2 linked regions of the Homo sapiens genome follow. The protein of the gene in region 1 interacts with the protein of each later gene in a pairwise test. Each region holds a gene or a part of one and is shown in the gene's direction. Other genes may lie near its edges.

Region 1 (3,813 bases):
GTGTTTTGGACATTTTGTTTGATTTTTACAGTTGTGCTCAGGATTCTACCTTTATTGGGATCTCAAATTAGAAAAGATTTTTTTATGGGATTATATTGAAAAACAAATACTAATCTTCTACCTTTTGAGACTGAAGAGATTTTATGTTTTTTTCGCCACATAGAAAGTTCGTCGCTGCTTCCTGTGCTCCAGGAGAGGACATCTCCTGTATTCCTGTCCAGCCCCCCTTTGCGAATACTGTCCTGTGCCTAAGATGTTGGACCACTCATGTCTTTTCAGACATTCCTGGGATAAACAGTGTGACCGATGTCATATGCTAGGCCACTATACAGATGTGAGTATCCTGCATATAACTAATTTGTCAGGCTTTGGAGGGAGTGTGCAAGTTTGTAATTAATGTGCAAGTTTATAACTATCAGTCAGCATACCTAAAGGAATGTTTACTCCGTGAGATATATATATATATATATAGTCATGTCCATTTTGTCACTGAACATGTATATAAAGCAGTGCTCTAAATAATATAGGGGTAAGGAGCCTACTGAATCAGAAGACAGCATCAAGAGATAGCATTAATAAATATTTTAAGCCCATTCTAGCCCTTTTTCTTTATAAGCTTGTTAAATAAAGGCTGAATTTAAAGAGGTAATAAATAACATGTAAAATTTGTGTATTCATATTTATTTATTTATTTATTTATTTTTTGAGACATAGTCTCACTCTGTCACCCAGGCTGGAGTGCGGTGGTGCAATCTCGGCTCATTGCAACTTCTGCCTCCCGGGTTCCAGCGATTCTCCTGCCTCAGCCTCCCGAGTAGCTGGGGCTACAGGAGCATGCCAACACTCCTGGCTAATTTTTGTATTTTTAGTAGAGACGGGGGTTTCACCATGTTGGCCATGCTGGTCTCGAACTCCTGACCTTAGGTGATCTGCCCGCCTCAGCCTCCTAAAGTGCTGGGATTGCAGGCGTGAGCCACTGCACCTGGCCTATTTGTGCATATTTAAATGAAAATATATGCACAATTAGCAGTTATATACAGATGTTTAATGGAAGCCTATTTTGATGCTTCTTTTTTTATTTTTATTTTATTTATTTATTTTTTGAGATGGAGTCTCGCTCTGTTGCCCAGGCTGGAGTGCAGTGGCGTGATCTCAGCTAACTGCAACCTCCAACTCCTGGGTTCAAGCGATTCTCCTGCCTCAGCCTCCCGAGTAGCTGGGATTACAGGCACGTGCCACCACACCTGGCTAATTTTTTATTTTTAGTAGATACGGGGTTTCACCACGTTGGCCAGGATGGTCTCGATCTCCTGACCTCATGATCCGCCCGCCTCGGCCTCCCAAAGTGCTGGGATTACAGGCATGAGCCACTGTACCCGACCTTTTTTTTTTTTTTTTTTTTTTTTTTTTTTTTTTTTTTTTTTGGAGACAGGGTCTCGCTCTGTCACGGTGGCTAGAGTGCAGTGGCATGATCTTGGCTCACTGCAACCTCTGCCTCCCAGGTTCAAGTGATTCTCCTGCCTCAGCCTCCCAAGTAGCTGGGATTACAGGCGCCCACCACCATGCCTGGCTAATTTTTGTATATTTAGTAGACAGCAGGGTTTCACCATGGTCAAGCTGGTCTCGAACTCCTGACCTCAGGTGATCCACCCATTTCAGCCTCCCAAAGTGCTAGGATTACAGGTGTGAGCCACCACACCTGGCCTGATTCTTCTTATCAATGATTTTGCTGGTCTAATAGTCTAAGGAAAGAAGGACAAGGCAGCCATTACTTTAAATTGCAGCATATTAAAAATGCTGTTTTGGACACTATTTGCATTGTATTGTTGTAAATGTATATGGAGTTTAGTCATAATTTCAAAGACCAGAGGGCTGTTGAAATAAGCAAATACAGCTTTGATGTGGAATATGTAGTTTTCTACATTCAGTTTACCCTAATTCCTAATGAGTGTCTCATTAAGAGTCTTTCATTTTAGGTCTTAATTGCGTTTCTTACTACATAGTAACATATGTTTATTTTATATTAACAGCTAATCAGTACAAAGTCATTTTTCATCCTCATACCTAAGTGGCAATTCTAATTGATTTAAGGGGTATTTATGAAAGGGGTGTCTCTCATTCTCTTTTTTAAAGCATTACTTACCTATTTTTTAAAATAATAAAAGTACTTTAATATGTACTTCCCCAAAGTCATGATACGAAAGCAGAAATATTTTTCTAATTTTATTTATATTGAAATACACCTATAGTCTTTTTTCTTACAGCCCTTTTTAATGCATGTCTGAAATACACCTATAATCTTTTGCTCAATAAATTAGTATGGCTTTCTGTTGAAATGAATTTCAGATTAAAACAGATTAGAGTATGAGTGTTTGGTATATATATGTATTTCTCATGTAAATAACATGACAATTATTTATTGTAATTCCACCAGCAAATTTATACTTAAATTGTTACCCATTTTTTAAACAAACAGTGGTGCATTTAATAATGTTTTGGTAAGTCATATTTTATAAATGGAATTGTGAAATTAAAAGACGTACACTTATGTCTGGATAAGTATTGTCAAATTGCTCTTCTAAAAGATTGTACCAATGTATCTACCTACCAGCAGTGTTAAGAGAAATGAGCACTGCACTCATCAACATTAAGTATTATCAGTCTTTAAAATTTTTGGCTGGTCAGACCAAAAAATGATATTTTATTGTTTTAATTTGTATTTCTTTGGTTATTAATAAAGTGGTATATGGTTAATTAATTTGAATACTCTATTCTCAAGGCTATATAGATAGAAGTTGTCATTTCATTCCAAAGTACTTTAGTCTTATTTTTTAGTGTTTACCAAGTCTTAAAAATGATAAATCCTGAATTGTCCTAGCATTATGTTGTTGTCTGCATTAAGTTGTCAATTATAATTTTCTTAGCAAGATTTTCTAGTTTGGCAGTTATCTTTAATAGCATCTGTTTTTTTTTTACTGTTTTCTTCCAAAGAGCTCTGACAAATATGGTCTTATTTGCCTGTGATAAAGAAGGGGAGTAAGACATTATCATAGGCAATTTTTTAAAAACAAGAAACTGTACTACAGAACAGTTAAAAATTACTTGTAAAAGGTTATATAATCATCTGTGTTAATTCTATAGGCCATTCCTCTTAACTTCTTGATTTTGGCCTCTAATATATGTTAAATTATTATCTAAAATGAGAATTAATAATCCCAATGAATGTAGGTTTTTTTAAATAAGATTAAAATCATGGTATGCTCCTGTAATATCAGCTGCTCAGGAGGCTAATGCAGGAGGATCTCTTAATCCCAGGAGTTTAAAACCTGGTGGCTCACACTTGTAATCCTAGCACTTTGGGAGGCCGAGGCAGGTGGATCACGAGGTCAAGAGATCGAGACCATCCTGGCCAGCATGGTGTGAAACCCAGTCTTTACTAAAAATACAAAAATTAGCTGGGCGTGGTGGTACACACCTGTAGTCCCAGCTACTCAGGAGGCTGAAGCAGGAGAATCGCTTGAACCTGGGAGGCAGAGGTTGCAGTGAGCCAAGATCATGCCACTGCACTCCAGCCTGGCAACAGAGTGAAAGTCTGTATCCAAAAAAAAAAAAAAAAACAGCCTGGGCAACATAGTGAGAGCCTATCTCAAAAAATAAAATAAAATAGGGTTGGGCTGTGACCAGCTTCAGAGAAGGCAGTACTCTTTTCCCCAAATCTACCAGTATCTACTATATTTGTTGTAATTACATGGCGAAGGTTCTGGAAGCTGGTCTTTGTAGCCTACACACCTGGTGTAGGATTCCCTCGCAGCC
Region 2 (3,813 bases), about 99 Mb from region 1:
GGTCCTGGCTGAGCTGCCACCAGGCATAGCCCCACACTGCCCGTCACATGGCCCTGCTCGGTGGGCTGGGCTGGGTGGAGGAAGAGCAGGTGGCCAAATGCTAAGGCCTCTGATGGCTCAAGGGGTAAGGTAAGGCACGGACAGTGCCCACCTCCTGGCCGCCCAATGTCCGTCTGCTGGGCACCTGAGTCTCTGAGAAGCTCTGTGCAGGGGGTGACGGCAATGGCTGCACCCAGCTGAGGGCCAAGGGCTGGGGTGGGCAGTGTGGCCGGGTCCAGTCCTTGGCGAAGTGGCCTAATGGGACATCTTGACTCTCTTTGGAAGCTCTCACTCCCCCAGGACCTGGAGGACACCCAGCTCTCAGACAAAGGTGAGGTGGGGACAGCAGTACACCCAGAGGCCTCCCAGCTTCCCCAAGTGAGGCCCATCTTCAGCACAGGCAGCCCGTGCCGCAATGCCTGTGTCAACCCCCACAACCCCCACTCCACAGACAGGGAAACTGGGGCTGGGGATAAGTAAAATGGTCAAGGTCACCTAGAGAACAAACTACAGAGCCCAGCTGGAACCCAGGGCCCCAGCTAGTGGGACAAGTGTCCCCTGGGGTGGAGAGTGTGGGGGTCTGGGCAGCCCCCATGGGCTGCAGAGGTGAGCAGGCCCACCGTCCTGAGAGTGTGGGGCCCCTCTGGGCAGCCCCCACGGGGTGCAGAGGTGAGCAGGCCCAGTCCTGGCTGCTCCAAGCTTCCTCCTGGACAGAGGGAGGTGGTAACGAGCGAACGACCAGGTGCATGAAGCTAGAAGATGGGGCGAGATGGGGCCCCACGTGGCTTGAGGGAAAGGGCTGAATGCAGGGGTGGCCAAGGGCCTGCTGTGTCCCGGTGCAGTGGGGGTAAGGCAGTGGCAGGGGCTTCTAGCGGGCAGGGCAGGCCCCCTCTGCCTGTCTGGGGGAAGGACTGGGTGGCTAGCTGGGAGCAGCTCCCGAGTGTCCAGGAGTGGGCAGTGGTGATGAGGTAGGTGTTTGCACTGAAGGTGCTGTCAGGTAGGGGTTGGGGAGGGCCCAGCAGAGGGGTCCTGGGAGGCTGCACCGGAGTTGGACAAGCTTCCTGAGTACCAGGCCGTGGCCTCCAAGCAGAGGCGGAAGGGGAAGGAGGAGCCGCAGACGGGGAAGTGAAGACCAGCGCCTTTGGCTGCAGCTCAGAACACTTGAACATGGGGATGCCAAGCCCCCATGTAGGCACAGAGGCGAGCAGGACCCAGGAGTCCGGCTCAGGCACTGCCCCCATCCCCCTGGGTGGCTGTGGCAGGAGCAGGGGCAGGTGTGAAGGTTGGAGGGTGAGCAGGGGAGGGGCTGGCTCTAAGGGGCTGCCAATGGCCAGGACAGCCCTGGCCTGGCCCTCACCGCAGTGGGGCTGAGACTGGACGTGCGTGGTTTCTGCCCAAGGGTCCTGATCCCTGGTCTGCCCAGGTCCTGGCGGTTTCTGAGGGGGTCCAGCCGCCTGAAGGTTCTCTCCCAATTGCTGCAGTACCCCTGCCCCCACTTCAGGAGGACCCAGACAGCCACTGTAGCTGTCCCCAACTCTCTCCCCAGGGCCGCCATGCCCACAGATGCTTTGGAGTGATGGGGGACGGTGCTGCTCAGGCCCAGGGTTTAAGTTCCCCCGAGGTCTGGGAGGCGTTCCTCCCTGGCAGGCAGCCAGCTCGGGGGAGGGATGGTCACTGGCGGGAGCGTTGGGCCTGGGCTGGCATCTGGCGGCCTCCTGGAGCAATGAACAGGCAAGCGAGGCCATAAGGCCTCAGTCTCATCTACAGAAAGCAGAGTCTACACTGGACCCATGTGGGGATCCCACCAGGCCTTGGAAGACAGCCCCACTGCAATGCCGGGGAGGGGTGGGGCAGCCGTGCTATACGTGGCCCAGCAGATGGGCAGGTCCCACAGGCACGACTCTCCTTTCCAGGCTGCCTTGCCGGCGGGGGGAGCCCGAAACAGCCCTTTGCAGCTCTGCACCAGGAGCAGGTTTTGCGGAACCCCCATGTAAGGCTTCCCCGGGGTGGGGTCCTCCCAGCCGTGGGCCTCAGGGTGACCGATCACAGGGAGAGTGGCTCCCTGCCCTGGGCACCCCCTGCGGTGGCCCCGACGACAGCTGAGGAGTGACCACAAGGTCTCTGCCCACAGTGCTCGGGGTGCGGTGTCTGGGCTGCGAAGTGGATCCCCCTTTCTTGGGCACTGCAGCAGCTTGGGGGGCTTTTTGGACGTGGATGTGCCTGGTCCTGGTTTTCCGAGGGCCTTTACAGTGGATGAGGAGGTGAACACAGGAGTCCTGAGAGCAAGCACCACCTCGGGCTTTGTTGTAGAAACAATGGCCCGGACCCCAGGCTGGAGCCGTGGCTTGGCCTCCTGGGTGTGTCTTGGCATCTGAAATGCAGGCTACCCACACCGGCTCACCTCCAGGGGTACAGGCAGGTCCCACAGGGAGAGCTTGGCGCTGAGCTGAGGCTGTCTGGGCTCCTCGCCTCCCAACCAGTCTGCAGTTACAGGGGCCAGTGGGGGGCGGGTGAGAAGGACGGGTTCCCTCAGGGGAGCCGGCCGGAGCCCGAGCCTTCCCCCTTCTCCAGGACGCAGGCCTGAGCAGCGGGGAGCCGCCCGAGAAGGAGCGGCGGCGCCTCAAAGAGAGTTTTGAGAACTACCGCAGGTAGGCGGGCGGCCCCCAGGCTTCTCCAAAACGGGCTGGGGAGCGGCAGCCGGGTCGCGCCTGAGACACCTGTCTTCACAGGAAGCGCGCCCTCAGGAAGATGCAGAAAGGATGGCGGCAGGGGGAGGAGGACCGGGAGAACACCACGGGCAGCGACAACACCGACACTGAGGGCTCCTAGCCGCAGCAGCGCAGGCCCCGACCAGGGCACACCCACCGGCCCGGCCTCCTGCCACCCGGGGGTGCCGACGCCCTGGGGCGCAGACTTCCCCGAGCCGTCGCTGACTTGGCCTGGAACGAGGAATCTGGTGCCCTGAAAGGCCCAGCCGGACTGCCGGGCATTGGGGCCGTTTGTTAAGCGGCACTCATTTTGCGGAGGCCATGCGGGTGCTCACCACCCCCATGCACACGCCATCTGTGTAACTTCAGGATCTGTTCTGTTTCACCATGTAACACACAATACATGCATGCATTGTATTAGTGTTAGAAAACACAGCTGCGTAAATAAACAGCACGGGTGACCCGCATTCCCGCTCGGACACTCGCGCGCAGCCCCGCGGCCGTCCCTCCTCGCTGCGGCCCGCGGTGTCCTCGGGGTGCGAGCTGCACGTGGACGCAGGGCCCCCTCAGGCCGCCAGGGGGCGGCATAGCGCAGCGCGCCCCCGACCCGGAAGACGGAAGCCCAAGAACGCCGCTTCCGCCCGGCGCCCACTTCCAAGATGGCGGCGGGGCGGGGCCGGGGCAGGGCGGACGGAGCCGGCGAGCGGGATGCTGCGGACTGCGCTGCGCGGCGCGCCGAGGTTGCTGAGTCGCGTGCAGCCCCGGGCGCCCTGCCTGAGGCGGCTGTGGGGCCGCGGGGCCCGTCCAGAGGTCGCGGGGAGGCGGCGGGCCTGGGCCTGGGGCTGGCGGCGCTCAAGCTCCGAGCAGGGGCCGGGGCCCGCGGCGGCTCTGGGGCGCGTGGAGGCGGCGCACTACCAGCTCGTCTACACCTGCAAGGTAGGCGCGCGGCGGGACGGAACCGGGGACAGACCCGTATCTGACGCTACACGGCCTGCGGGGAGAAGCGGCCCGCCGGGGATCCGGGAGGCGGCGTGGTCAAGTCACAGGAAGGAGTGGAGCCACCCCT

The links.
Region 2: the proteins of ZCCHC7 (region 1) and CARD9 interact in binary tests that used the Homo sapiens proteins (3 or more experiments, as listed by UniProt).

Annotation. Positions count from the first base shown.
Region 1 is NC_000009.12:37,305,381-37,309,193, forward strand, and holds part of ZCCHC7 (zinc finger CCHC domain-containing protein 7), read left to right. Parts: intron 1-163; coding exon 164-334; intron 335-3,813.
Region 2 is NC_000009.12:136,363,357-136,367,169, reverse strand, and holds the end of CARD9 (caspase recruitment domain-containing protein 9), read left to right. Parts: intron 1-324; coding exon 325-370; intron 371-1,952; coding exon 1,953-2,029; intron 2,030-2,610; coding exon 2,611-2,687; intron 2,688-2,768; coding exon 2,769-2,868; 3' UTR 2,869-3,007; coding exon of another isoform or gene 3,008-3,045; 3' UTR 3,046-3,214; downstream 3,215-3,813. Other genes in the region: DNLZ (DNL-type zinc finger protein), read left to right, coding at 3,456-3,683. UniProt on the Homo sapiens protein: Adapter protein that plays a key role in innate immune response against fungi by forming signaling complexes downstream of C-type lectin receptors.